Homo sapiens: one gene and its partner. The protein of the gene in region 1 interacts with the protein of each later gene in a pairwise test. Each region holds a gene or a part of one and is shown on either strand. Other genes may lie near its edges.

What was found.
Region 2: the proteins of NUMBL (region 1) and CLSTN1 interact in binary tests that used the Homo sapiens proteins (3 or more experiments, as listed by UniProt).

The regions. Positions count from the first base shown.
Region 1 is NC_000019.10:40,670,786-40,686,110, reverse strand, and holds part of NUMBL (numb-like protein), read left to right. Parts: intron 1-1,554; coding exon 1,555-1,694; intron 1,695-3,142; coding exon 3,143-3,217; intron 3,218-3,308; coding exon 3,309-3,383; intron 3,384-5,053; coding exon 5,054-5,194; intron 5,195-8,689; coding exon 8,690-8,879; intron 8,880-12,461; coding exon 12,462-12,767; intron 12,768-15,325. UniProt on the Homo sapiens protein: Plays a role in the process of neurogenesis. Required throughout embryonic neurogenesis to maintain neural progenitor cells, also called radial glial cells (RGCs), by allowing their daughter cells to choose progenitor over neuronal cell fate.
Region 2 is NC_000001.11:9,810,376-9,825,700, reverse strand, and holds the start of CLSTN1 (calsyntenin-1 isoform 1 precursor), read left to right. Parts: upstream 1-1,735; 5' UTR 1,736-1,967; coding exon 1,968-2,058; intron 2,059-15,325. UniProt on the Homo sapiens protein: Postsynaptic adhesion molecule that binds to presynaptic neurexins to mediate both excitatory and inhibitory synapse formation.

The DNA of each region.
Region 1 (15,325 bases):
TTTCTACAGACGACAGCCACACTTTCACAGACAGCACCCGCGGGCCCAGGCTCTCACAGGGAGCTACGGTTGTGTACAAACATGCACACAGTCTCACAAAGAACACCCAGCACTCTCTCAGGCAACAGTCACACCCTTACAAATAACCCTCATGAAAACACTCTCAAAGACAACCTCATGTTCCCACACACCCTAACGGATGCACCACTGCACACAGATACACCCTCTGTGCAATACCCACACACCCACACTCTAAGGCAACAGCCACAGTCACACAGGCTCACCGCCAACAGCTGCACTCTTGGACACAGACAGTCTTGTAGATCCCTCAGATGCACTCTCCGAGGCAATGTCATCACAGACAATAGCCACACCTTCACACAGAGACATAGCTACATGGATAACAGCCATGGACACACCCTTTGAAAGACGACAGCCTCATCTCAAACACAGACACACCCTCACAGGCAACAGGCACTGAGCCACAAGTTCTCATAGACAACAACGGCACTCTCGGATATAGACAGCAGACACACACTCACAACCACTCTCAGACATCGATGCCCTTCAGCAACAACCTTCAGGGCCTCAGACTCACAGACAACAACCACACTTTTGGATGCATCCCTCACGGACAGCATTCACAGATGCACACTATCCTACACCATTCTCAGACATGCGTTCTTCCAGACAGCCTTCAGAAACACACTCACAGACATTACTTGCCTGCTCAGATATAGAGCCCCTCATAGACAGCGTTCCAGAACATACCATTGCACACTTGCTTACACACACACACACACACACATCCCCCTCTGCTGTTGGTGCTCCCAGTCCTGGGACTGTCAGGATGGCTGATCAGTGAAGACTGTCCTAGTGGCTGGCCACCTCCACACCCACTCCACACACCCACAGCCCTGCCTCTGACAGTCATCAGTGCAAGGCCCCAGAAGCCTTGCCTGGGGACTAGACACAGTTGTCACAGAATGGCTGTGTCTCAGAGTTCCAGAGACAAGCCACCATCCCCCATACCCCATGCACCTGACTCCTGCACCCCTGACCCATGCAATTCCCAACTCCTCTGCTGCCCTCTGATCACCCCACTGCCTGACTCTCATACCCCTAAAACCCCTGACCGTGCGGCCCCTGACTTCTATGCCCTCTAGCCCCCATGCCCTCCTACGTCTGATTTCCCACCCTTTGTGTCCTCACGGCCCTGGGAATGAGGAAGCATCCACCACATGGACAAGAAGCCCTCCAATGCCCTGAAGCCTGTGCCCCATACCCCCCACCCCAGACCTCCAGCCCCTTAGCCCCATGGTTCTGAATCCCCAGTGCCCAACTTTCGCACTCCCCTGGCTTCTGTTGGCTCCTTTCCTCACTGTCCCCTGACTTGAGCTGCTGATCCCATGTGCGCTGCCAACTGACCCTGTAACCCCGCTTCCAGTTATCTTGTTATCTGACCCCATGCTCCCTGAGCACTGGTCCCTCCCCGTTGAGCTCCATACCTTCTGACCCCCACCCTTGACCCACATCACTGTCCTGTGTCACCAGACGGGGCGGGCACCATGAACAAGTTACGGCAGAGCCTGCGGCGGAGGAAGCCAGCCTACGTGCCCGAGGCGTCGCGCCCGCACCAGTGGCAGGCAGACGAGGACGCGGTGCGGAAGGGCACGTGCAGCTTCCCGGTCAGGGTGAGTGGGCGCGGCAGGGTGCGGCGGGGCGAGGGGGACGGGGGCCGCTGTGCTGTGCTGTGCGGGTGCGCGGCCTGGCTGGGACACCAGCCCAAGTCGTTTGAAGTTGGTGTTAAAAAGCGTGAGGCCGGCAGTCCTGGCTATCACGGTGAAACCCCGGCTCTACTAGAAATACAACAAATTAGCCTCGCGTGGTGGCGGGCGCCTGTAGTCCCAGCTACTGGGGAGGCTGAGACAGGAGAATCGCTTGAACCCGGGAGGCGGAGATTGCAGTGAGCCGAGATAGCGCCATTGCACTCCAGCCTGGGCGACAGAGCAGACTCTGTTTCAAAAAAAAAAAAAAAAAAACTTGAAGCGTAGTGGTGGCTAACACCTGTAATTCCAGCACACTGGGAGGCTGTGGTGGGAGGATTGCTTGAGTCAAGGAGTTCAAGACCAGCCTGGGCAAACACAGGGAGACCCTGTCTCTACAAAAAATAGGCACAGTGGCACGCACCTGTAGTCCCAGCTACTCACAAGGCTGAGGTGGGAGGCTCACTCGAGTCCAGGAAGGTCGAGGCTGCAGTGAGCCTTAATTGTGCCATTGCACTCCAGCCTAGGCAACAGAGTGATACCCAATCTTGAAAACAAACAAAAAACCAGAACACATTTTTTTGTACCAGCAAACTATTACCTGGAAGCCGTCATGTGGTGTAGCATTTGCAAAGCGCTCTACCGATAAGGACGTTCTGGTTTAGCCATACCCTACGCTTTTACATTCCTGTGAGGGGGAGAGCAGGATTCACGGCGTGGACTGTGGAGCTCAGCCCCTTCCTGGCTGGGTGATGACTGACCATGGTCACAGCCCCTCCACCACCTTACGTTCCCTTCCCTGGAAGCAGACTTTGAATGTGACGGCTTCATTTGGGAGGTGCAGGAAATGGTGTTGGGAGTGAGGAAAGTAAGGCAGCCAGTAAAGGGTGTGTTATTAAAACTGCAGCAGTGTGCAACTGAGCTTTCCCCTGGGAAACTCGAGGCAACAGTCATCCCACCTGCAGATGAGGGAGCTGGGGCTCAGGTACCCTAACTCCCTTCAGTCATTGTGGGGACTGGCCCAGGCTCTTTCTAGCTGCTTTAGGGTAGGCAAAGCAGCTTTGCATGGCCTGTGGCCAGTCCTCACGCACAGAGATGCAAATACTAGCTCTCGGGAGGACCACGGTGCCGGGTTAGGGCCCAGGGGTATAGCTAGACTGGAATCACTACTACGTGCTGTGCTTCAGTTTCCCCATCTGCATGTCTAGACCAGGAATGGGGTCTCCACCTTGTAGAGTTGAGATGCAGAATAAATGATTGCATACACATCATGTGCTTAAAATATTGTCTACTGCATGGCAGATGCTCAGTGGACACTGAGAATGAGTGATTACTGTGCTGTTTCATGTCCCCCCCCCCATTCCCTCCAACCCAAGTACCTGGGTCACGTGGAGGTAGAGGAGTCCCGGGGAATGCACGTGTGTGAAGATGCGGTGAAGAAGCTGAAGGCGGTGAGTGAGGGGGCTGCCATGAGGGAGGGGGCAAGGTCAGACAGGGAGAGGCACCCTGACCCGGCTCCTTTGTCCCCTTGCCTCCCTCCAGATGGGCCGAAAGTCCGTGAAGTCTGTCCTGTGGGTGTCAGCCGATGGGCTCCGAGTGGTGGACGACAAAACCAAGGTAGGAGGCCTGTGGGGGTGGACGCCAGGGGGCCTGTCTGCTCACCCTGCTGGAATCAGGGCGGAGGACACCTTCCCGCCTCCTCTGCACATCCCTCCCTCAGGGACCTTCTAGACGATGCCGTGTGCTCCCTCTGTCGTCATAACTCAGGAATAAATGCTGTGATTATTTGGGAACTGGCATAGGCTGTGGGTGAGAGAGACTGGAGCAGCTGCCTCAGCTCCGATCCCAGCTTAGGGACCCTGGGCATGAGATTTAACCTCTCTGAGTCTCAGTTGTGTCATCTGAAAAATGCAGATTATAGGCCGGGAGTGGTGGCTCACGCCTGTAATCCCAGTACTTTGGGAGGCCAAGGAGGGTAGATTACCTGAGGTCAGGAGTTCGAGACCAGCCTGGCAATATGGTGAAACCTCATCTCACTAAAAATACAAAAATTAGCTGGACATGGTGGTGTGTACCTGTAATCCTAGCTACTTGGGAGGCTGAGGCAGGAGAATCTCTTGAACCCGAGACTTGGAGGTTGCGGTGAGCGGAGATCATGCCATTGCACTCCAGCCTGGGCAACAAGAGCTAAACTCCATCGCAGAAAAACAGGGATTATAATAGACCCTACCATTAAGTGAGAAAGCATATGCAAGTTATTTGAAATGGTGCCTGGCTGGGAGGGCCCCTTGAAGCCAGGAGTTCAAGATCAGCCTGTGAAACATAGCAAGGCTCCATCTATACAAAATAATTTTTAAAAAAATTTAAATGTGGGCTGGGCACGGTGGCTCACGCCTGTAATCCCAGCACTTTGGGAGGCCAGGGCAGTTGGATCACCTGAGGTCACGAGTTCGAGACTAGCCTGGCCAAGATGGTGAAACCCCACCTCTACTAAAAATACAAAAATTAGCCAGACGTGGTGGTGCGTGCCTGTAATCCCAGCTACTTGGGAGGCTTAGGTAGGAGAATCACTTGAACCCAGGAGGCAGAGGTTTCAGTAAGCCAAGATCATGCCACTGCACTCTAGCCTGGGTGACAGAGCAAGACTCCTTCTGGGAAAAAAATATATATATATATTTAAATGGGGTCTAGTACATCGTAACTGCTCAGATCAATGAATGTTAGCCATTAAGTGTTTATTGTCACCCTGCCCAGTCAGAAGGAAGCACTATGAGGCCACAATCTAGGTATCTGTTTGCTCACCTTGAATCTGCTGCCCCCAGCCCAGAGACTGCCCTAGGAGGTGCCCAGGACATGCTGAGAGTTGGGTTAATAACAGAACAAGATCACCACCTTTGCAAGGCAGTTCCCTCAGCCCAAAATACTGTTCCTTGACTTTTTTTCTTAGTTAGTACCTGCTCCAGGAAGCCTTGCCTGACTGACCCCAAGCTGGCTTCTGCCATGCTGGCCCTGACCCCTCTGCCTGTGCCTCCATGGTCCTGGCCCTGACCCCTCTGCCTGGGCCTCCTTCATCACATCCTGGCTATGACTCTGGGCTGCCCATCTCGTGATGGGTCTGATCTTCCCGCTGACCTGGGAGCCCTCTGCAGGCAAGGCACAGGGTGTCTCAGTGACTGCTGGGTCCCCACCCTGTTCAGGACTGGATTTCAGCAGACACAGAGAGAATGTTGAGTGAACACTTGAAAGAGAGTTCACACTCTTCTCCTGGCCTCCCCGGCCCCTCCTAGGATCTTCTGGTCGACCAGACCATCGAAAAGGTCTCCTTTTGTGCTCCTGACCGCAACCTGGACAAGGCTTTCTCCTATATCTGTCGTGACGGGACTACCCGCCGCTGGATCTGCCACTGTTTTCTGGCACTGAAGGACTCCGTGAGTATTGCCACAGCTGGCCAACTCTTCCCTCCCATGCCCTGGCATCCCAGCCCCACCCCTACAAGCTTCCTGCATTCAGGCACATCACTAACCTCTGTGTGCCCAGTTTCCTCATCTGGAGAAGAAAGTATACTCACGGTTCCCAATTTAGAGTATTCACGTGAGGGCCGGGTGCAGTGGCTCACACCTGTAATCCCAGCACTTTGGGATGCTGGGGCGGGGGGATTGCCTGAGCTCAGGAGTTCAAGACCACCCTGGACAACATGGTAAAACCCCATCTCTACTGAAATACAAAAAATTAGCTAGGTGTGGTGGTGCACACCTGTAGTCCCAGCTACTTGGGAGGCTGAGGCAGGAGAATCACTTGAGCCCGGGAGGTGGAGGTTGCAGTGAGCCAAAATTGCACCACTGCACTCCAGCCTGGGAGACAGAGTGAGACTCCATCTCAAAAAAAAAAGAGTATTGGCCAGGCGTGGTGGCTCACGCCTGTAATCCCAACACTTTGGGAGGCCAAGGCAGGCAGATCACCTGAGGTCAGGAATTTGAGACCAGCCTGGCCAACCTGGTAAAACCCCATCTCTACTAAAAATACAAAAAAAGTAGACAGGCATGGTGGCAGGCGCCTGTGATCCCAGCTACTCCAGAGGCTGAGGTAGGAGAATCACATGTGGGGAGAATCACATGAACCCTGGAGACGGAGGTTGCAGTGAGCCAAGACTGCACCACTGCACTCCAGCCTGGGTGACAGAGCGAGACTCTGTCTCAAGAAAACAAAAAAAAAAAACTATTTGGGGATGAGAATGAAAGCCAGAAAAGAGCAGGACCATCTCCTGTGGGTAAAGAATGTGATGTTGGATGAATTCCTTCCTACTTCTGAAGGAAGTTTTAACCATTAAGCAGTAGAATTCCCCAAGTTCAACTTTTTTTTTTTCTTGAGGTGAAATTCACATAAAATTAATCATTTAAAAGTGTACAATTCAATGGCATTTAATACATTTTCAGTGTTGTTTAACCATTGACTTTAGCAGTCCTGAAACATTTTCATCACCGCTAAAGGAGACCCCATCTCCATTCATCAATTCACCCCGTCTCCCCACTACCCCAGCCCCCTGGCAACCACTAATCTGCTTTGTCTCTCTGTGGATTTACCTATTCTGGATATTTCATTTAATGGAATCATATAATATGTGTCTGGCTTCTTTACTTAGTGTAATGTTGTGTTTTTGTTTGTTTTTGAAACAGAGTTTCGCTCTTGTTACCCAGGCTGGAGTGCAATGGAGCAATCTCAGCTCACTGCAACCTCTGCCTCCCGGGTTCAAGCAATTCTCCTGTCTCAGTCTCCCAAGTAGCTGGGATTACAGACATGCACCATCACAGCTGGCTAATTTTATATTTTTAGTAGAGATGGGGTTTCTCCATGCAGGTCAGGTTGGTCTTGAACTCCCGACCTCAGGTGATCCGCCTGCCTCTGCCTCCCAAAGTGCTGGGATTATAGGTGTGAGCCACCCTGCCCGGCAATGTTTTTAATTAATTTATTTAATGACACAGCGTCTCTCTCTGTCATCAAGGCTGGTGTGCAGTGGTGCAATCTCGCCTCACTGCAACCTGGGTTCAAGCGATTCTCCCACCTCAGCTTCCTGAGTAGCTAGGACTACAGGCACACGCCACCATGCCTGGCTAATTTTTTGTAGAGATGGGATTTCGCCATGTTGCCCAGGCTGGTCTCGAACTCCTGGACTCAAGCGATCCAGTCACCTTGGCCTCCCAAAGTGCTCGGATTACAGGCGTGAGCTGCTTGTATCAGTGGTTCATTCCTTTTTTTGAGACGGAGTCTCGCTCTGTTGCCCCAGGCTGGAGTACAGTGGCACGATCTTGGCTCACTGAAACCTCCGCCTCCAACCTTCAAGTGATTCTCCTGCCACAGCCTCCCTAGTAGCTGGGATTACAGGTGCACGCCACCACACCTGGCAGATTTTTGTATTTTTAGTAGAGATGGGGTTTCACCATGTTGGCCAGGCTGGTCTCGAACTCCTGGCCTCAAGTGATTTGCCTGCCTCGGCCTCCTGGGATTACAGGTGTGAGCGACTGCAGTCACACCGTCTGATTCTTTTTGTATGTCAAATTTGTAGGCATTGGACTACTTCAGCATGCACACCATTAAGTAGAATTCGTATTTGTTTCCAGATTTTTTTTTTCTTCAAAGCGAAAGATATGATTGTCTTAGTTCAGGCTGCTATAACCAGATAGTGTAGACTGTGTGGCTTAAATGACAAACATTTGTTTGCCGCAGTTCTAGAGGCTGGATACCTGAGGTCAGGGTGTCAAATGGCTCATTTCTTGGTGAGGGCTCTTTTCCTGGTTTGCAGATGGATGCCTGCTTTCTGTATCTTCACCTCTCAAGGTGGAGGGGAGATCTCTTGTCTCTTTTTCCTTTTTAAGGGCATTAATCCCGGCCGGGCATGGTGGCTCACGCCTGTAACCCCAACACTTTGGGAGGCCCAGGTGGGCAGATCACTCGAGGTCAGGAGTTCGAGTCCAGCCTCACCAACATCATGAAATCCCATCTCTACTAAAAATACACAAATTAACCAGGTGTGGTGGCGCATGCCTATAATCCCAGCTACTTGAGAGGCTGAGGCAGGAGAATCGCTTGAAGCCGGGAGGTGGAGGTTGCAGTGAGCTGAGGTCATGCCGCTGCACTCCAGCATAGCATCAGAGTAAGACCCTGTCCCAGAAAAAAAATAAATAAATAAGGGCATTAATTCCATCATGAGGACCCCACCTCATGATCTAACATAACTTTTATTGTCTCTCAAAGGCCCACCTCCAAATACCAGCACATTGTGGATGAGGGCTTCAGCGTTAGAACTGAGAGAGACACACACGTTTAGTCTATAGCAATGCACAAGCCTTTGGTGTACAGTCAACGAATTTCGACAACTGCATACACCCATGTAACGAAACCCCTATCAATATCTAGAACATTGCCACCACCCGGTCATCCCCTCATACACTTTCCAGTCATTCCCCACCCCATAGGAAACTACCACTATTCTGACTTTTTTTTAGACAGAATCTCACTCTGTCACCCAAGCTGGAGTGCAGTTGCCCCATCATAGCTGCTTGCAGCCTTGACCTCCTGGGCTCAAGGGAACCTCCCGCCTCAGCCTCCCAAAGTGCTAGGATTACAGGCGAGAGCCACCACTCCTGGCCTGTTCTGACTTTTTTTCACCATAGAACCATAGATTAGTTTTGCCTCTTCTGGAATTTCCAGTAAGTGGAGCCACACAACAGGCTCATTGGTTTCTGGCTTCTCTCACTTGGAGCTGTCATTTCCAGCCCTTCCTTGTGGTGCAGATGAGCACTGAGGCCCAGAGAAGTGCAGAGACTCATCCGGGGCAACCCAGTACCTAGCGGCTATAACCCAGTGCCCCTGGCCCCTGTCCGCACTGCCCAGCGCCTCTAACCCCCCCGCCCATCCTCTCCCCATAGGGCGAGAGGCTGAGCCACGCTGTGGGCTGTGCTTTTGCCGCCTGCCTGGAGCGAAAACAGCGACGGGAGAAGGAATGTGGGGTCACGGCCGCCTTCGATGCCAGCCGCACCAGCTTCGCCCGCGAGGGCTCCTTCCGCCTGTCTGGGGGTGGGCGGCCTGCTGAGCGAGAGGCCCCGGACAAGAAGAAAGGTGGGTGTTGCCCCAAGCGCCAGCAGAGCACAGAGTGGGCACAGGGTACCCAGTATCAGGGGGCAGGGAGCTGCAGAGGTGCAGAGACTCAACAGTTTACAAAGTAGGGGATGCTTCAGGCCAAGCGCCATGGTTCACACCTGTAATCCCAGCACTTTGAGAGGCCGAGATGGGCGGATCGCTTGAGGTCAGAAGTTTGAGACCAGCCTGCGCGACATGGTAAAACCTCGTCTCTACTAAAATACAAAAATTAACTGGGCATGGTGGCCTACGCCTGTAATCCCAACTACTTGGGAGGCTGAGGCAGGAGGATCGCTGGAACCCTGGAGGCAGAGGTTGCAGTGAGCCGAGATCACGCCACTGCACTCCAGCCTGGGCAATAGAGTGAGACTCTGTCTCAAAAAATAAATAAATAAATAAAGCAACTTCCATGGAAAGAGTTCTCTGGGCAATATTCTAAGGGCGCACCAAGTGGTTTACTATCCACCAATTCGGGGCTTTTCGAGGCTTTTCTTTTTTTGTTTGTTTTTTTTTTTTTTTGAGACGGAGTCTCGCTCTGTCAACCAGGCTGGAGTGCAATGGTGTGATCTAGGCTCACTGCAACCTCCACCTCCCGGGTTCAAGCAATTCTGCCTCAGCCTCCCGAGTAGTTAGGATTACAGGCATGGCTAATTTTTGTATTTTTAGTAGAGATGGGGTTTCACCATGTTGGCCTCAACTCCTGACCTCAGGTGAGCCACCGCGCCTGGCCTTCTCAGGGCTTTTCAACCTGTGTATTAAGACCTGGGAAGCCAATTTGCTGTACTGTGGCTGGCATTTTTTGTTTTGTTTTGTTGTCTGAGTTGAGGTCTAATTCTGTTGCCCAGGCTGGAGTGCAGTGGTGCGATCACAGCTCCCTGCAGCCTCAAACTGCTGGGCTCAAGTAATCCTCCTGCCTCAGCCTCCATGTAGCTGGGAATATAGGCACAAGCCACAGCATCTGGCTAATTTTATTTTTATATTTTGTAGAACTGGGATCTTGCTGTGTTTCCCAGGCTGGTCTCAAACTCCTGGCCTCAAACGATCCTCCCACCTCAGCCTCCCAAAGCACTGGTATTATAGGTGTGGACAACTGGGCCCAGCCCATGTGGCTGACATTTAAAAAAATGAAATCAACCTGGGCAACATAGGGAAACCCTGTCTCTACAAATCATTAAAAAATTAGCCAGGCGTGGTGGTGCAACCTGTGGTCCCAGCTCCTCAGGAGGCTGAGGCAGGAGGATCACCTGGGCCCAGGAGGTAGAGGCTGCAGAGAGCTGCGATTGCACCACCACACTCCAACCTGGGTGACAGACAGAGTGAGACCCTGTCTCAAAAAAAAAAAAATTAATTTAAAAACAATGAAATAGAGAATCATAGAAAATATCAGAGTATATTGAATGGCATAAGGGTTAAATATAATTTAATGATACTTTTATTTGAGAGAGAGAGTGTGTGTGTGTGTGCACGCGTGTGTAAGAGGCTACCATATAAAAGATATCTCTTAACTCTGGATTGCCATCAAGAAAGTTTGAAACATACTTGGTAAAACTAACTTTCTAGGTAAATGGTTAAATACTTTGTAAGTTCTAAAACTCTGTGTGTGTGTGTGTGTGTGTGTGTGTGTGTGTGTGTGTTTAAAATATAATTGTATGTATGTCCTGAGTCACCATATAATTAATTTATTTATTAATTAATTAATTTATTTATTTATTTTACTGTGAATTTAAGTTCTTTGGGAAAACACTACTTAGAATTTACAAAGAATTTACCATTGGGAACTGATCCTGATTAAGGGAGACTAATGAGGTTTAACAGGTATTAATAGATGCGAGATGTGATCCTGAATTAGATCCTGGATTGTAAGGGGAAAAAAAAGAACATCTTTTTTTTGAGACAGAGTCTCTCTCCGTCACCCAGGCTGGAATGCAGTAGTGCCATCTCAGCTCACTGCAACCTCTGCCTCCTGGTTTCAAGACATTTATGTGCCTCAGCCTCCTGAGTAGCTGGGATTACAGGTGCCCGCCACCACGTCCAGCTAAGTTTTTTTTTTTTTTTTTTTTTTTTTTTTGAGACAGAGTCTTGCTCTGTTGCCCAGGCTGGAGTGCAATGGTGCGATCTCGGCTCACTGCAACCTCTGCCTCCCGGGTTCAAGCGATTCTCCTGCCTCAGCCTCCAGAGTAGCTGGAATCCCAGGCGTGTGCCACCACACCCAGCTAATCTTTTTTTGTATTTTTAGTAGAGATGGTGTTTCACCATGTTGGCAAGGCTGGTCTTGAACTCCTGGCTTCAACTGATCCCCCCACCTTGGCCTCTCAAAGTGCTGGGATTACAGGCGTGAACCACTGTGTCCAGGCATGCTTTTGTTGGATTCCAAAACATTTAACATTCACTACCTAAACTGACCCTCTCAGAGGCTTGGGAGGTAGCACTGAGATGTTTATCCCAGGTTTCTAGTTGGCAAACTGGAGCCCAGAGAGGGGAGGGGACTTCCTGAGGTCACACAGTGAGTGGAGGCAGAGGAGGTTTCCTGGTTCCAACCTGTCCTGGGCTGTTTCCACTGCCTTGGGCCAGGCCTGCATGGGTGCCCCATTGTGTCACGATGGGAGAAGCAGCACTGGGCGACATCCTTATGGGAGGGTCTCTCTGGGCCTGAGTTTAATCTCCATGGCATTCAGGCTGCAGCTCGGGGAGGCCCTGGTAGGAGGGTAGATGTGTGTTTGTGGTTTGGCAGGGGTGAGGGCAGCCCTGCCCTTGAAGAGCCTGCCTCTCCTGCTGAGTGGGGAGGTCAGGTTTCCTCCCAGAGTACAGAGAACAGTCTCAGAGTGGAGGGAGCCAGGCTGAGAGCCTGGAACAATCTGGAAAGCTTCTCAGAGGATGAAGCATCCAAGCCATGTCTAGAATGACTGGAGGAAGGGAGGAGCTACTTGAGGTGGGAAGAAGGCTGGGAGGTGGGAGACAGAGGGGAACAGACAGTGACAGAGAAAGACAACATGATATGGAGAGACAGGTCAGAGGGAGACAGGGCGGGCAGTCATTTGGAGCATGGGGTCCAGAGTCAGCCTGCCCCTTCCTAGCAGTAGGACTTGGGCACATCACACTGGGCCTTTGCTGGGTCTCAGTTTCCACATCTGTAAAATGAGAATCATATCAACCCCATGGGTAGTCGTGTGGATTGAATGAGTGAATACTTGAAAAGCATCTGGAACAATGCCTGATACGTTGTTCCAGCACCAAATCAGTGTTTGTTAAGTGATCAAAAAGGGAGATAGAGGGTCTTAGAGGGAAGAATGGTGAGAGCAGCAGGGCAAGACAGAAAGGGGCAGGAAGCTGGAGAGACACAGAGGGTGAGCCTGGGGGACGGTTTTCCAAGAGCCTCCTGGGGAAGGGGATCATGACTTGGGTGGGGGTGAGGGATATCTCAGGGCTTTGACTAGCTTGTCTTAAGGGCAGGACTCACTGGGCAAGGAAGGCAGCCTTGGAGAATGATCAAGAGAACCAGGTGGGAGAGGCCTTGCATGCCATGGTGAGATATCTAACCATCCATCTCCCCCATGTCTCCAGCAGAGGCAGCAGCTGCCCCCACTGTGGCTCCTGGCCCTGCCCAGCCTGGGCACGTGTCCCCGACACCAGCCACCACATCCCCTGGTGAGAAGGGTGAGGCAGGCACCCCTGTGGCTGCAGGCACCACTGCGGCCGCCATCCCCCGGCGCCATGCACCCCTGGAGCAGCTGGTTCGCCAGGGCTCCTTCCGTGGGTTCCCAGCACTCAGCCAGAAGAACTCGCCTTTCAAACGGCAGCTGAGCCTACGGCTGAATGAGCTGCCATCCACGCTGCAGCGCCGCACTGACTTCCAGGTGAAGGGCACAGGTGAGCCCTGGGCCCAGTGGGAAACGGCGTTGGAATCAATTGGCACTATCTGATGTGGGCAAGGGATGGAGGCGAGATGGTTCACACTGTGATTGATTTGCACTGTCTGCCATGGGCAAAGGAGAGAGAGTGGGAACATGTCATGATCGATTAGCAGTGGGCAAGGGAGAGGAAAGAGATAGCACAAATCAGGATTGATAAGCCGTGTCTGCTCTGAGTAAGGGATAGTAGAAAGGCATCACAAGTTATGATCAGTTAGCAATGTCTGGTGTGGTTAAGGAAAAGGAGAAAGATGACACACATCATGATTAGTTAGCAAAGTCGGCTATGGACAAAGAAGTCGGGCATGGATAAGGAAGTTTGCCATGGGCCAGGGAAAGAAGAGAAGCAACACCATTGGCCTGTTTTTGCTCAGGAGTAGACTGAAGCACTACAGGTTAATGCTCCCTCCCTCCAAGCATTCACCTATGAGATCTGGCTAGGTGAAGGATACAGGTATTCCTCAGGCTCTGAGGAAAGGAGGATTGTGATGGATTAGAAATGTCTGCCTAGGGCAGGGAGCATCAAGGGATGGCAAAAAAGGCATCACAAGTCATGATCAATTAGCAATGTCTGCTGTGGTTAAGGGAAACGAGAAAGATGGCACACATCATGATCGGTTAGCAGTCATGATCTCCATGCAGTGTGTGTCATGGGCAAGGGAGAAGAAAGAGTAGCAAGAGTGTTATGTTTTTACCCAAAGGGGAGACTCCCAGAATTTGGTCAGTAGAAACATGACATGCAGGGCACCAGTGAGCTCAGAGATCCCAGGGGTCAGGGGCATAGTGATGGATCAGGAACATTTGTTGTAGGCACAGAGTTGAGCAGAGGCAGTACCCATCACGAAAAGGAGCAGCACATCATAATTGATTGGCATTGTCTGCCATGGCTGGTGGTAAGAGAGAGGAGATATAAAGGTCCTGTTTTACTTGGAGGGAAGATGGAGTTACAAGGATCTGTTTCTTCTAGCACTTGGCCAGGGGAGCCATGAGGTCTGGACAGGTGACGGGTAAGGTGAGCAAAGAGCTCCGTGGGGGAAAAAAGCATTGTGTTTGATTACTAATGTCTGCCATGGGCCAGGGAAAGGAGACAGGTGGTGTACATCATGATCTAAAAGTGATGTCTAGCCAAGTGCAGTGGCTCATGCCTGTGGTCTCAGCACTTTGGGAGGCCAAGGCAGGCAGATCACTTGAGCCCAAGAGGGGCTCAAGGATCCCTTGAGGCAGATCACTTGGCTAAACCCTGTCTCTACAAAAAAATACAAAAACTAGCCTGGTGTGGTGGCGCATGCCTGTAGTCTCAGCTACTCAGGAGGCTGAGGAAGGAGAATTGCTTCAGCCCAGCTGCAGTGAGCTAAGATTGCGCCACTTCACTCCAGCCTGGGCAACAGAGTGAGAACCTGTCTCAAAAAAAAAAAAATTAAGAGCAATCTCTGCCATAGGGAAGGAAGATAGAGGTGGCACGCTACTGAGTTTTTGCCTGAGGGAGGCAGGCAGAAGGGCTGTCTTCCCCACCAGCAGCCAGTGAACCCATGTGGTCTGGCCCACTCTCTTGCTCCTGGATGCCAAATCTGCATCGCCTACCCGTTATGTCCTCGGGGATTGATGTGGGAGGGTGTTGAGCTGTATCCAGGAGGCTGGGCTGCTCCAAAAGGTAACCGGTGAGCAGATGCCAACCCTTGTTGAGAGTGACGCACGCTCCCTCCATGCCTGCAGCATTCCTGGGCCATCACACACCCTCACATTTGCTGTCCTTAACGCAGCCTGACATCAGGCACACTCCCCAGGCTGTCACACGTGCTCCTGAGAGGTGGCAGGAGCTCCAGGCTTTATTTGGAAGCCTCACACTCCTGTGGCCAGCTGCACGCTTATTTGGATGTGACTTGCCACACAGAAATTTCACATACTCACATAGACATTGCACCCCCCCACACACATGTCACACATGCTCAGAAGTCACAAACTCACAGTCAGGTATACTCTCAAGTCACACACACTCCAAAATCACAGAGTCAGAAGTCACACATGGCCAGACGTGGTGGCTCACACCTGTAATCCCAGCACTTTGGGAGGCTGAGGCAGGAGGATCACTTGAGCTCAGGAGTTTGAGACCAGCCTGGGCACCACAGCAAGATCTCATCTCCACAAAAAAATTTTAAAAATTAACCTTTATTGTTAACCAGGTGCAGTGGCATGCACCTGTAGTCCCAGCTACTCAGGAAGATTGCTTGAGCCTGGGAGGCGGAGGTTGCAGTGAACTAAGATTGTGCCACTACACTCCAGCCTGGGCAACAGAGCGAGACCCTGTGTCAAAAATAAATAAATAAATATTTTTAAAAAAGAAACACACTCAGATTTACACACCTTCACAGACCACACACCCAGATTTATGCAAACTCCAAAGCCACATGTGCAGATCCATGCACACCTGCAAACACACTCATACATCACACGGCAGATGCACTCACACCTGGGAGTCACGCATCAGGACGCCACACACCCGGACCCCAGTCACACTCT
Region 2 (15,325 bases), on another chromosome or scaffold:
CATGCCCTGAGGTCAGCTGGGTGGAGGATGGGAAGCCCAGCAGAGATGTCTGGACCTGACGAGGTGGCAGCAGGGAGGCACTCACTGAGTTTATAACTCCAGGAGGGGCAGAAGCAATGGCAACACCCGTCACCAGGGGAGAGGATGACTCAAAGCCTTGGCTGGAAGGAGTGGTGGGTGTGGCTTGGAGCCTGCCCGGGCCAGGCAGGTGCTTTGGGAAGGGTCCAGCCAAGGAGAGTCCGGTCTTCCTCCACGCAGGGGAGGGGGAGCAGGGGAAGGAAGGAGAGACATTAACAAGATGGAATCTGTAGGCTTTGGTGCAGGACGCTTACGGGGAACACGGCTCAGGGAGTTGGATTCCAGATTGCTTTTGAAGCCTTCCCCAGGTCACATCACACCGCTGTTCCCAGCCGTTCCAGGTCTTCCTGTTGACTGTAGGATCAAGTCCATTCCCCCAATCTGACCTCAGTCTACGTTTTTGGGCTCTTTGCCCACTAGTCTCCTAAATAAGTCCTCTGCGCCCCACAAACCAGTCTCCACCCAGCCTCCAGTGCTGCCAGCCTCCTCCACCCCCACCTGGAGCAGTGACATTCATGGATAGCTCCTCCAGCGGTCTCGAAAAATGAACATTTTAGGGTTCCACTTTTTGCTGTTGGTGTCCCCCTAATGCGAACATCCTGTCCTTGAGGGCTGATTCTTTTTACAATAGTTGTCCCAACGGGGGAAGTCATTTCACCTTTCTGACTTAGTTTCCTTATCTGCAAAATGGAGCCAGTAGTGTCTCATAGGGTACAGTGCCTGCACACACGCCCATCCACGGCTGTTCCAGGCCTTTCCTCCACTGCGGGGGGGTGCCAGGGGTCCAGAGGCGAGGAGGAGGGGGCCGCTGGACGCTGGGAAATTGGGAGGACCCCAAGATCCCTGTAGGGATCCACGGTAGAGGGGGAGGGCTTCTCTGTCCTCTCTATCCATTCGGACCTCCGCATTTCTAAGAACCAGCATCGCACCATGTCACTGAGAAAGAGCGCGCACACCAGCCGCCTTTTGAAAGTCACAAATAGATTCCTTCAGTGAATTCAGGACAGACTCCCCGGGGGCAGGTCCCGGGGCGGGAGCCGGTGTGGGTAGTGCTGCGCGGCCCTTAACTGTTTACCAGGCGCGTTTCGCTGACCTCGTCTCCTGGACCCCCTTTCGTGACCCCTCTCAACACCTCTACTGGGGAGACGAGGACCCCGAGGTTCTGGGGGGCGACGCGACCTGCCCGAAGTGACAAGGGTCCTGGGCCGCACTGCTCCGCCGGGGTCTGCGCTCCTCGGCGGAGCGGGTGGGAAGGATGAGTCCTCGGGGTGGAGAAGGAGGAGCGGGTCCCCGGGTACCGCTCACCCGGCCTTAGGAGCCCGGGAGCGCGCGTAGGGACGCGGAGTTGAGGCTCTCCATCTGCGGCCAGGGAAAGGGATACAGTCCCCCGGGCCCCTCCCGGCCGCTCGGAACCCACCCCAGGCGCGTCCCCGCGGGCGCGCGCTCCAGGCGGGGCCGACGGGCTCGGAGGCGCGCGCCCGCTGCCGGGTCCGCCGCGCGCGCTCCCTCCGCTCCTCTCCCCCGCCCCTCCCGGGCCCGCGCGCTCCCAGGGTCCGCCGCGCGCGCGCCTCGCGTCGCTCCCCATCCCCGCCCCTCCCGCCGCCACCCCGCCCCCGGCCGGGTACCCTCGCCGGACCCGAGAGAGAGCGCCGCCGCCATCTTAGTTGCTGCCGCTGCCTTCAGCAAGACGCTGCTCTGAGGCGGGGAGGGCGCCGCGTCCTGAGCGCGCGGCCCAGCGTCACGGCGGCGGCGGCGGCGGCTCCTCCTTGGACCCCCGGAGCTCCCCGCGCCGCGGAGCAGCTAGCCCCAGGCCCCTAGAGCCCCGAGAGCTCCGAGAGCTCCGCTCGGCGTCCCGCGCGCCTCCCTGCCGCTCCCGCCCCGGGCTGGCGATGCTGCGCCGCCCCGCTCCCGCGCTGGCCCCGGCCGCCCGGCTGCTGCTGGCCGGGCTGCTGTGCGGCGGCGGGGTCTGGGCCGCGCGAGGTAAGCCCCGGGGCTGGGCCGGGCCGCTGGGTCGGTGCGGGATTCGGGTCCGGGTGCAGGATTCGGGTCCCGGTGCGGGGATTCGGGTCCGGGTGCGGGAGTAGGGCCGGATGCCGGGATTCGAGCCGGGATGCGGGGAGTCGGGTCCGAGCGCAGGGAGCCGGGTCAGGGCGTGGGGTTCGGGTTGGGGGTCGGGCTCGCGGAGCCGGGGCCAGGGCGCAGGAGACTGTGGGCGCGCGCTGCAGGCGTCCCGGGGAAGCCAGGCTCCGTCCCGGGCGGGGCTCCTGAGCCTGGGCTGCCCCCACTGCAGCCCATGGTGGTGGCTGCGCTGATTTGGGGGAACGTGCAGACGGGCCGAAGGGTCAGTCCGCCCTGCTCAGCGGCGCACGCAGGCTGGGGCTGCACCCCTGGGTGAGATGCTCTGTGTACGTGTGCTCAGATGTGCATCAGGCGGGGGGTGCACGCACAGTTTTGGTGTGTGCTTACATAAGAGCCCACTCCTCCGCATCCCGTTTCCAAGATCCCGATTCTGTGTTGCTGCACCGCGGACACCACGACTTCGCCCCTTTCCGCCTCCTCCCAGAGTCCTTCAGACGTTGTCTGTTTCCAGTGGAGCCGAGGCTGAAACTTAGTGCTTCCCTCCCACCTTTTCACCCAAAGGTGAAATCGCGATGAGATTTGCGACCGCGGGCTCACCCAGTGTTAGAAATCTCCGTCTCTGCTACCCCTGGTGCCTTGGTGCTGTTTTTCTGACGGTCATTTAGACCGTGGAGGGTTAGATGTTCTCTACAAAAACGAGAAACCTCTCTGGTTTTTTAGGATTGTAGGACCGAAATTATTTTATGGCTCGGTGGGAAGTAGTATTTCTTGGCTAATTTATTATTAGCTTTTAACCTTCATCCACTTAACCTTTTAAACCTTGCATGCCTCTGCTATTGACTGGTCTTGCCAACGAAAAGCTTACGCATTGCAGATACAGTATTTGCTTCTGAGTGGATCTTGAAATCGTAAACATTTTCCTTGGCCTTAGAGCAGAGTAATCTAGGTGTAGTCTGTAGAATCTACTGTAGGCTTAAATCTGTTGTTCTGATTTTTTTTTAATCAAAAGAAATTTTGGGGAGGAGGATTGATAGAAATCTAGATGAAATGGTCATATTTGAATTTAGCAAGCTTTTTAAAAATTCTTATTTTCCCTTCCCTGGCGTGACATAAGGAGAGAAGTATGGTGTTCACGAATTAAAGGGCAGAGGCGGCAAATGCATCTTTTGTTCCATGTTCCTTTCTAAACATCGAGGATGATAAACTTTGAATACTTCTTTTATTTCATTTCTAACATTCTGTTGACTCTGTCAAATTCAGATCTTAGTCACTAAGTATCTCATTGCTGGCCATTTGATTTTTAAAAGTAACATCAAGCTAAGTTTGAAATGTTCTTTCCAGATGTGGGTTGGAGGTCTGAAACTCTAATATATCCAAGAGAAATGTCAAAAGTTTTGCTTCTCTTGGGGAAAACCCACACATTTTAAAAATATGTGCTTGGATTGGGTATTTTGGGAACAGTTTAAGTATATTTAGTCAGTGATACCATTTCTTGTTAAAATTGGTGCTTTCTTAAATAGCACCTACATTTGTTAGTCATTATTTAATTGCCTTGGTTACTTAAACAGCATACATTTCAACTTTGAATATCTTCATTACCTGAGACCGACAGAAATCTTGTGTGAAAGGTGTGTTGGCTAGTTGAGTCATTTGTAATTTGCTTTCTCTAAGTTTTTCTTGGTGCAGTTACAGTAGTTCAAGATTCTTAGTCTTCGGAATAAAGACATTTTACACATCAGTTATTCGTATGCATTTTTTTCAGGTTGCAAGTTAGAAAATGTCTTGGAATTACACGAAATGCTAATAAACAATTTCATTTTGAAATATTACAAGTGAATTTCATATGTAAATTTACAGTTTGGAGACACTCTGTGGGCTCGTTTTAAGAGATCATTTCAACTAATTGAATTTTTTACGGCTGTAAGGCAGTACGACATGAACTCCTGTTCATGCTGTAGCTACCTTTAATCATTGTTAATGTTAGATTACGTACAGACTGCTGCAGAAAATGATAGATTTTCTAATATAAATTGCATCTTGACTCTTAGTTTTGTAGAGACCCTCAAATTTTATTTTAATTATAGCTGTAGTTCTCAAAAAACATTGAGTAGAGCTGGGTGCAGTGGCTTGCGCCTGTAATCCCAGCACTTTGGGAGGCCGAGGCCAGCGGATCACCTGAGGTCAGGAGTTCGAGACCAGCCTGGCCAACATGGTGAAACCCCATCTCTGCTAACTATATAAAAATTAGCTGGGTGTACTGGTGGACGCCTGTAACTCCAGCTACTTGGGAGGCTGAGGCAGGAGAATTGCTTGAACCCAGGAGGCGGAGGTTGCAGTGAGCCGAGATTGCGCCACTGCACTCCAGCCTGGGTGACAAAGCAAGACTCCATCTTAAAAACAAATTCAGTAAGCCAAAATATTAGAAGAAATATCTTTGGCATGCCCTGGACGGTCATGTCCTTCAGCTACCTGCCTTCTTCATGGAGATCGGGAAATAGAACAGTGAAGCAGAGAAAATAGAAAGCTTATATGAATATTTAAAAAATGCAACCATGTAATGCATTTCGAAGCCACTTAATACATAAAATTCACTGTTACTTTTCCATTTGCACATAGGCTTAGTGAGACCTCCCCTCACCATCCTATTTGAAATAATTTCTCTTCCTGAACCCCTAAATCCTGTTTCCCTGCAACACTTTTTCTTTTTGCATAGCACTTAGCCCATTCTAACATGCCTTGTTGTTTACTTATTGAATTGTTTATCGTCTGTTTCCCCTCAGTAGAACATATGCCCCAAGATGGAAGGGTATCTGCTTTGCATATGTTTCCCGTCACCAGCACACCAGAGGCATGCCAGTATTGTGTGATTGAATGAATGAATGGGTGGATGGATAACAGCATTTCAGTTTAGACAGCGTAGTAGCTTTGCATCCTAATTTTCACTTTACAGATAAATGCTATATACTGAAAAAAATTACATAGTGTAAAGCAAACTTAAGTTTTTTTTTTGTTTGTTTTTGTTTTTGTGACAGAGTCTCATTCTGTCACCCAGGCTGGAGTGCAATGGCGCGATCTTGTCTCACTGCAACCTCCGCCTCCCGGGTTCAAGAGATTCTTCTGCCTCAGCCTCACCAGTAGCTGGGACTACAGGCATATGCCATCACACTGGGCTCATTTTTGTATTTTTAGTAGAGACAGGGTTTCACCATGTTGGCCAGGCTGGTCTGAACTTCTGACCTCAAGTGATCCGCCTGCCTCTGCCTCCCACAGTGCTGAGATTACAGGTGTGAGCCACTGCACCCGGCCCAAACTTAAATTCTGCAGTGTCGATATGGGAATTCATTAGTGGGTAAATTTTCAAGGATCATGGGGCCAGCCTCGGTGGCTCACCCCTGTAATTCCAGCACTTTGGGAGAACTAGGCAGGCAGATTGTTTGAGCCCAGGAGTTTGAGACTAGCCTGGGCAACATGGTGAAACCTTGTCACTACAAAAATACCAAAAAAAAAAAAAAAGTTCAAGGATCAATTCTGTTGGTTGCAGTATTGGGGATATTAGATCATGAAACTCTGTCTCAGCCTTTGAAGGCTGTAGCTCTGTGGCTACCCCTGTTAGTCCCTTTAAAAATACTATAATTTTCAGCTTTTTTGGGAAGATGGTTTCTTAATTTGTTACCTCGTTTTTTCAGAAGTAACGATGTGGAAAAAAGTCGTTCGAATATAGACCTCAGTATTACCCATAGTCTAACATTTTTAATACTGAAAGTAAATAACATTTATTTCTCAAAGGAGACCTATAACTGCTGAAGAAATAATAAAATACGAACAATTTTGAATATATTCCAATTTTAGAGCATTCACTCGGTTAACTGGAACCTTCAGTTAGCTGGAATTCGTCCTTTGGCTGGATATTTCTTTTGGGAGAAAAAGCATGAAACCAAGCAGTTTTATAGGAATTATTTTTCAAAAGGAAGGTTTAGGAGGTCATAACATACATTATCTGTGCCAGTATTTGATATTCAAGCCAAAAACGCAAATAATATTTCAGTTTTAGTTATGAAGAATATGACCAAAAAATGAAATTTTTGTGGGATATAAAATATTACATTGAAAATAGAAAATGCTGTAATTTCGTAACACTAGCTGCAGGACTTAGTGAAGCTTATTAAACCAAGTCTAAATGTTTAAAATGAGGAAGCTGAGATAGGTTAAAATTTTAGAACAAAGGAAAAAAAGTACTGAGTTATTTTTATTATTGCTTTCTGAGACAGGAAAGTATGTTTTTTAATTTTTTTGGGTAGTTTTCATTTATAAGAGTTGAAACAAAATAGAGATCTGATTATCCTAAAAAACCGCCAAGAGTCTATTTCTTATGTATTCTGGTTGAGGGCTTAGATCATTAAAACTTGTTTTTTTAGTGGGTCTTAATTTGGTGTGAAGACTTGCTTGAAGGGGCCGGGTGCGGTGGCTCACACCTGTAATCCCAGCATTTTGGGAGGCCAATGTGGGTGGATCACGAGGTCAGGAGATCAAGACCATCCTGGCTAACACGGTGAAACCCCATCTGTCTCTACTAAAAAAAAATACAAAAAATTAGCCAGGCGTGGTGGCAGGTGCCTGTAGTCCCAGCTATTCGGGAGGCTGAGGCAGGAGAATGGCGTGAACCCGGGAGGTGGAGCTTGCAGTGAGCCGAGATCGCGCCACTGCACTCCAGCCTGGGCGACAGAGTGAGACTCCGTCTCAAAAAAAAAAAAAAAAAAAAAAAAAAAGAGTTGCTTGAAGAAATATGTCTTTATAAGTGAAATTTAAAATGTTGATTTGCTACAAAATACGGATTTTAGTAGTGTTTCAGGACTACAGATTCAAGATTGGTGGAAATTATTTATGCAATGTCATGTTCGTGCATTAAAAAACAACCAAGGCCTGGCGCGGTGGCTCATGCCTGTAATCCCAGCACTTTGGGAGGCCAAGGTGGGTGGATCATGAGGTCAAGAGATGGAGACCATCCTGGCCAACATGATGAAACCCTGTCTCTACTAAAAATACAAAAATTAGCTGGGCATGGTGGCATGCATCTGTAGTCCCAGCTACTTGGGAGGCTGAGGCAAGAGAATTGCTTGAACTCGGGAGGCGGAGGTTGTAGTGAGCCGAGATCACACCGCCGCACTCCAGCCTGGCGACAGAGTGAGACTCAGTCTCAGGAAAAAACAAAAACAAAAACAAAAAAAAACCCAAACGGCCAGGCATGGTAGCTGACACCTGTAATCCCAGTGCTTTGGGAGGCCAAGATGGGTGAACTGCTTGAGTCCAGGAGTTCGAGACCAGCCTGTGCAACATGGTGAAACCCCATCTCTACTAAAAATACAAAACAATTAGCTGGGCATGGTGGCATATGCCTGTAGTCCCAGCTACTCAGGAGGCTGAGGCTGGAGAACTGATTGAGCCTGGCAGGTTGAGGCTGCAGTGAGCCAAGGTCACACCACTTGCATTCCAGCCTGAGCGACAGAGCAAGACTCTGTCTCTAAAAAAAAAAAAAAAAAAAAGCCAAACTAACAGACCCTCAAAAGTGACATTTTGAGGCTATGCAAAGGCCATATATAGGAACCCTTAAATGGCGACAGCCTCCCCACTGTGTCAGCCTGACATACAATACCCGTCTTTTCCCTAAGAGCTGCCACCACCCGGGAACTAGAATGCTGCTTTCAGTTGTCCCTGATTTGATAGGTTCTTTCTCTCCTATGTTTTAGGTATATTTTTGCTCATTTTTTGATTTAGCTTTAGGATATTATTATTAGATTAAAAATTTTCACAAGATCTGTTACTAAAGTTTTTATTTTTAAAGATTCTTGGCAGAGATTCACGTACTTCAAAGTAGCAGAGTTTAAAGCAGCTTAAATGCCTATAAAACATCTGAAAGTTGGCTGGGTGCAGTGGCTCACAACTGTAATCCCAGCACTTTGGGAGGCCGAGGCAGGCGGATCACCTTAGGTCAGGAGTTCGGGACCAGCCTGACCAACATGGAGAAACCCCATCTCTACTAAAAAATATAAAATTAGCCGGGTGTGGTGGCGCATGCCTGTAATCCCAGCTACTCGGGAGGCTGAGGCAGGAGAATTGCTTGAACCCAGGAGGTGGAGGTTGCGGTGAGCCGAGATGGTGCCATTGCACTCCAGCCTGGGCAACAAGAGCAAAACTCCGTCTCAAAAAAAGAAAAAAATCTGAAAGCTTCCTTCCCATTCCGGAACCCCAATAAGAAGTATGTGATAGCATATCAAAAGAAGAGTCATGTTTTTTCTTTTTTACTTCTTTGGTCAGACATGAATCATTATCTTAAAAAGAATTAATAGAAGTGGCGTCTCACTGTGTTGCTCAGGCTGGTCTCGAACTCCTGGACTCAATCAGTCCTCCCACCTCATCCTCTCAAAGAGCCGAGATTATAGGTATGAGCTACCGCACCTGGCCGAAGAATCATCTTTCAGCCATCTGTTTCGTTCTGTCTGATTCTCCCATGACAAGAACTTCTGTTGAGTCTGCTACTTTTCAAGCCTACCTTGATCTGTACTTTCTCTGAGTCATTGTGTAGGACAAAGGAGGACCACCGGCTGGGTGCGGTGGCTCACGTCTGTAATCCTAGCACTTCGGGAGGCCGAGGTGGGCGGATCATCTGAGGTTGGGAGAAAGAGACCAGCCTGACCAATGTGGAGAAACCCCATCTCTACTAAAAAATACAAAATTAGCTGGGCGTGGTGGCACATGCCTGTAATCCCAGCTACTTGGGAGGCTGAGGCAGGAGAATTGCTTGAACCCAGGGGGCGGAGGTTGCAGTGAGTCGAGATCACACCATTGCACTCCAGCCTGGGCAACAAGAGCAAAACTCCATCTCAAAAAAAAAGACCACTTTTGTCATGCCACTGCACTCCAGCCTGGGTGACAGAGCAAGACTTTGTCTCAAACAAACAAACAAAAAAACCCACCTTTTTCTGCATCCACTCCTTTTTTTTTTTTTTTTTAAAGCAGCTTTATTGAGGTATAGTTCACATACCATAAAATTCAACCTTTTAAGGCATACAATTCAGTGATTTTAGTATATTTACAAAGTTGCACAACCATCACCACTATCTAATTTCAGAACACTTTCATCACTCCCAAAAGAAATCCCATATCTGTTAGCAATCATTCTCCATCTCCCTCCTCCTCTCCTCCTCCCTTGGCAACCCCTAGTCTATTTTCTGTCTATGGATTTGCTTATTTTGGACATTTCACATCAATGGAATCATACGTGGCCTTTTGTGACTAGCTTCTTTTGCTTAATATGATGTCTTCAAGGTTCATCCATGTTGTAGCATGTATCAGGACTTCGTTTCTTTTCATAGGTAAATAATATATCCTTGTAGGGATATAACACATTCTGTTTATCCATTTATTCACTGATGGACATTTGGGTTATTTCCACTTTGTAGCTAATTTTGGAAAATATTACTATGAACATTTTTGTACAGGAATTTGTGTGGACATATGTTTTCATTTCTCTTGGGTGTATACCCAAGTGGAATTGTTGGGTCTTAGGGTAACTCTTAGATTTAACTTTTTAAATTAAAAAAATTTTTTTTTGAGGTAGAGTCTCACTCTGTCACCCAGGCTGGAGTGCAGTGATGTTATCTTGGCTCACTGCAGCCTCCGCCTCCTGGGTTCAAGAGATTCTCCTGCCTCAGCCTCCCGAGTAGCTGGGATTACAGGTGCCTGCCACCATGCCCGGCTGATTTTTGTATTTTTAGTAGAGACGGGGTTTCACCATGTTGGCCAGGCTGGTCTCCAACTCCTGACCTCAAGTGATCCAGCTGCTTTGGCCTTCCAAAGTGCCGGGATTACAGGCGTGAGCACTATGCCCGGCCTGTGTTTTTAACATTTTGAGGAACTACCAGTTGGTTGTACAAAGTGGCTGCACCATCCTGTATCCACTTGACCTCCATAGTCACTCACAGGAGCATTTTTCGAATCAAATACACATTTCACAGTTTTCTAGTTTGTTAGAATTTTAAGTTGAATTTTTCCTAGTCTAGGTGCAAACCGGCATTTCATCCAACCAATTCCTTCCTTTGCCATTGTCTCTCATATAATTTCTACTCTGGACTTTAGACTTTGAGTTGAAAGGAACTTTGAAAGTTCTTTCCTCTATACTTTAAATAGCCTTCCCTGTAAAACAGACATTTCCTCATATGTTCTTGTGTGTTGATCATTCAGCCTCTGTTTGAACTCTGCTGCTGTGGGGCTCTTGGTAGCTCACAGAGCAACCCTTTTCTTAAAAACATTGAGCCTTTGGTCAGCTTTCCTGAGGACTAAATTTTATCACGCCTTTGTATTTTTGCAGGCATCCAAGCCTACAGTCTGTTGTTTTTACCACCTCACACATTAAGAGAGACTGAGAGCACTGAGGCCTAGGCCTTGATTTCTGTAGATTTCTTAGGAAATCTGAGCCTAGCACAGGGCTACACATGCAGTGTTTGGGGGACAGCCACCCAGACACATGCAGAGTCAATATCCTGGTTCCAGGAGCAGGGCTTAACTTAATGAAAGGGACTGGAAAAAACACGAGAATTTTCAAACTACAACTAGTTTAGAAAAGTGACATTTTTCTTTTTTTTTTTTTGAGACAGGATCTTGCTCTGTTGCCCAGGCTGGAGTGCAGTGGCACAATCACAGCTCACTGCAGCCTCAACCTCCCTTGGCTTAAACTATCCTTCCACCTCAGCCTCCTGAGTAGGTGTGCACACCGCCATGCCTGGCTAATTTTAAAATTTTTGTAGAGACGGGATCTTCCTATGTTGCCCAGGCTGGTCTCGAACTTTTGGGCTCAAGCATTCTGCCCTTTTTGGCCCTCCAAAGTGCTGCGATTATAGGCGTGAGCCACCATGTCCAGCTGACATTTCTTCATTCATTACATTTTTGTTATGCTAGTTGGCTAAAAATGTGCTTTGTTAAAAAGTAAATTATTTTTTCTAGTCCTTTGATTTTATTTAACTATTCCTCAATTACCCAATCTTCAAACATATAAAATGCTTAGAAATATGTCTTTAGATTCAAAGTGAATTTTAAAACTCAGTAAAAATGAATATCTTCTTTGTTTACATACTTAAAGTATAGCAAAGAAATTTTTATTCAAGCTGGAGTGCAGTGGCACGATCTCAGCTCACTGCAATCTCCGTCCTCCCAAGGTTCAAGCGATCTGCCCATTTCAGCCCCCTGAATAGCTGGAACTACAGACACACACCACCATGCCTGGCTTTTTTTTTTTTTTTTTTGGTAGAGATGGGGTTTTACCATATTGCCCAGATTGGTCTCAAACTCCTGGACTCAAGCAATCTCCCTGCCTCAGCCTCCCAAAGTGCTAGGATTACAAGCATGAGCCACCATGCTCAGCCTAACATTTTTCTTTCTTTTTTTTTTTGAGACAGTGTCTCGCTCTGTCACCCAGGCTGGTGTGCAATGGCGTGATCTTGGCTCACTGCAAGCTCCTTCTCCCAGGTTCATGCCATTCTCCTGCCTCAGCCTCCTGAGTAGCTGGAACTACAGGTGCCTGCCACTGCGCCCGGCTAATTTTTTTTTGTATTTTTAGTAGAGACAGGGTTTCATCGTGTTAGCCAGGATGGTCTCGATCTCCTCACCTTGTGATCCTCCCGCCTTGGCCTCCCAAAGTGCTGGGATTACAGGTGCGAGCCACCGCGCCCAGCCAACATGTTTCTTATATAGTACTTTTGAGGACCACTTCAAAATAGTTGAATGTCATAAATTTAAATTGAAGAAATGTGAAACTTCAGAATGATTTGTATAAGGTTGTCTATTAAGTGGCTTTTAAAGGGTATAATGAATTCCATCTGAAATGCAGACTCTAGTCTCACTGAGTTTTGCATATTTCAGATGTAGTTAATGATGAAGATTGACAGGACTAGCTACATAATCCAAGGGGCCAATGCAAAACAAACTGTGGGGCCCCTTGTTCAAAAATTATTAAAAATGTTTTTCTTTTTCTTTCTTTCTTTTTTTTTTTTTTGAGACAGAGTCTTGCTGTATTGCCCAGGCTAGAGTGCAGAGGTATGATCTCAGCTCACTGCAACCTCCGCCTTCAGGGTGGAAGCAATTCTCGTGCCTCAGCTTCCCGAGTAGCTGGGATTACAGACATGCACCAGCAAGCCTGGTTAATTTTTTGTACTTTTAGTAGCGACAGGGTTTCACCAGGTTGCCCAGGACGGTCTTGAACTCCTGAGCTCAGGCAGTTCACCCGCCTCAGCCTCCCAAAGTGCTAGGATTACAGGCGTGAGCCACTGCATCTGTCCCAAAAATTATAAAAAATATCAAGATGGCAACAGGTTTTTCTTTTTGTTTATTAGACAGAGTCTTGCCCTGTCACCCAGGCTGGAGTGCAGTGGTGTACTCTCGGCTCACTGCAACCTCCACTTCCTGGGTTCAAGCGATTCTCATGCCTCAGCCTCCTGAGTAGCTGGGATTACTAGGCACCCGCCACCATGCCTGGCTAATTTTTGTATTTTTAGTAGAGATGGGGTTTCACCATGTTGGCCAGGCTGGTCTTGAGCTCCTGACCTCAAGTGATCCTCCCACCTCAGCCTCCCAGAGTGCTAGGATTATGGGCTGAGCTACCTCACCTGGTCAGCAATAGGTTTGTTTGTTTTTTTTTTTTTTTTTGAGATAGAGTTTCAGTCTTGTTGCCCAGGCTGCAATGCAATGGCGTGATCTCAGCTCACCACAACCTCCACCTCCTGGGTTCAAGTGATTCTCCTGCCTCAGCCTCCTGAGTAGCTGGAATTACAGGCATGCACCACAACTGGCCCGGCTAATTTTGTATTTTTAGTAGAGATGGGGTTTCTCCATGTTTGTCAGGCTGGTCTTGAACTCCCGACCTCAGGTGTTCTGCCCGCCTCGGCCTCCCAAAGTGCTGGGATTACAGGCATGAGCCACCGTGCCCAGCCAGCAATAGGTTTTTAAACCAACCCTGGGGCCCTTCTATGCCTGGCTCCTGGCACATGCAGGAAACTGGCCCTGAGTATTGATAAAACTAGATGACAGAGTATTAATAGTCAAATTGTGGGCCCAGGGCCTGAGATTTTCACCAGAGCTGCTTGTCCTCTGTGTCTCTTGTCAGCTGCATCTCTGGCCAATGCTCCTCCTTCCCCTTGGGAAAAGAGTCCTGCCTTTTATTCTAAGTGGCTTCAGGGTGCAAGTTTCCCCTTCATCTTTCCATCCTCAGCAACAAGCAAAGGATAGGCTCTACTCCGTTCTCAGTGGACAGTGAGAACCGATGGTAGACAGAGGCTCACAGAAGACTAGGGTTGTGTATGATCTGGGGGACTAAAGCCCTTCTGTTAAGCAGATTATGTTTACTCTTTTTTGTTTTTTTGAGACGGAGTCTTGCTCTGTTGCCCAGCCTGGAGTACAGTGGTGCGATCTCGGCTCACTGCAAGCTCTGCCTCCTGGGTTCAAGGTATTCACCTGCCTCAGCCTCCTGAGTAGTTGGGACTACAGGCATATGCCACCACGCCCAGCTAATTTTTTGTATTTTTAGTAGAGATGGGGTTTAACTGTGTTAGCCAGGATGGTCTCAGTCTCCTGACCTCATGATCCACCCACCTTAGCCTCCCAAAGTGCTGTGATTACAGGCGTGAGCCATCGCCCCTGGCCTATGTTTACTTTTAAAATGATTTGACTAATTGATGCTAGTTTCTTATTACTTACAGAATTAGTAAAAAGGATAACAAATCATTAAAATTCTTGGATAATCCCTACTCTTTTTTTTTTTTTTTTTGCCATGCATTTCAAGCATTTGTCAGAGTACTAAGTAAATAGTAAAACACACTGACTTGAATTTCATTTTCTCCTTAGGCCCTCTCACTCTGGGCTAAAATTATTAAAGGAACAGTGGGGGTGGGGAGTAACAGGTGGGGTACAGTCGTTTTGAGTTTTTGAGCCCCTCAGTTACTAGTGCCTTGTGACTAGTTGGAAGGGGACCTTGATAATCCTGACTGATTATAAAGCCCTAAGTTGGCAAGGTCAGAGCTTGCTTCTGAGCTGTCTGTAAATATCCATTGATACCAGCTCATGATTCCTGTAGAAAACATTTTCATTTGGCAAGGGTTTAAAAAGTCCATGCCCAAGTGTACGAGAGCCGCCTCTTGTTTACCTAGGAAGCAGCGAATACATGTCTTCTAAACATTCAGAGCCTTGAATAGAAAATAAATACTGGCTTAAATGCTTTTTTATATGAAATCTGACATGTTAAAACTTCTTCTAAATTGGAGTAAGTACCACTGGGATAGCTTCATAACATAGCCTTTCCCCTCCCTTCTGCTGACTTTAATAACAACTACGACATTACTGTTTGTTTGAATGAAATAATGTTTTAGGCCATTAATACCAGTGGTTAATATATATTTGCAGATTCATTTGGTAAAGTTTATTAACTTTGTCTTTTTCTAGACTTTTTCTGAGTGTTCTTAGAAGGTTTGGGCTTTTTAACTGCTACTTAAAGTAATGCATATGGCAGTGGGTCTGAACAGATTGTGTTGATTGCATTTTTCTTGTTGCATATAAAGTATATCATACATTGTTGTGAGGGTCCCAGGAGCAAGAGAATTGATCAGAGAACAGAGAGGAGAGAGGATCCGGAGGTATGTGGAATGAGGCATTCTAGGTAGATGTGGTCAACAGTTTAGATTTTATTTTTATTTATTTATTTATTTTTAATTTTATTTATTTATTTTTTGAGTTGGGGTCTCACTGTGTCGCCCAGGCTGGAGTGTAGTGGCGCAATCTCGGCTCACTGCAACCTCCGCCTCCCAGGTTCAAGAGATTCTCCTGCCTCAGCCTCCTGAGTAGCTGGGATTATAGGTGTACACCACCACACCTGGCTAATTTTTGTATTTTTAGTAGAGATGGGGTTTCACCATGTTGGCCAGCCTGGTCTCGAACTCCTGACTACAGGTGATCTATCTGCTGTGGCCTCCCAAAGTGCTGGGATTACAGGCGTGAGCTAGTGTCCCCAGTCTTTATTTATTTATTTTTGAGACAGAGTCTCATTCTGTTGCCCAGCCTGGAGTGCAGTGGCATGATCTTGGCTCTCTGCAACCTCTGCCTCCCGGCTTCAAGCAATTCTCCTGCCTCA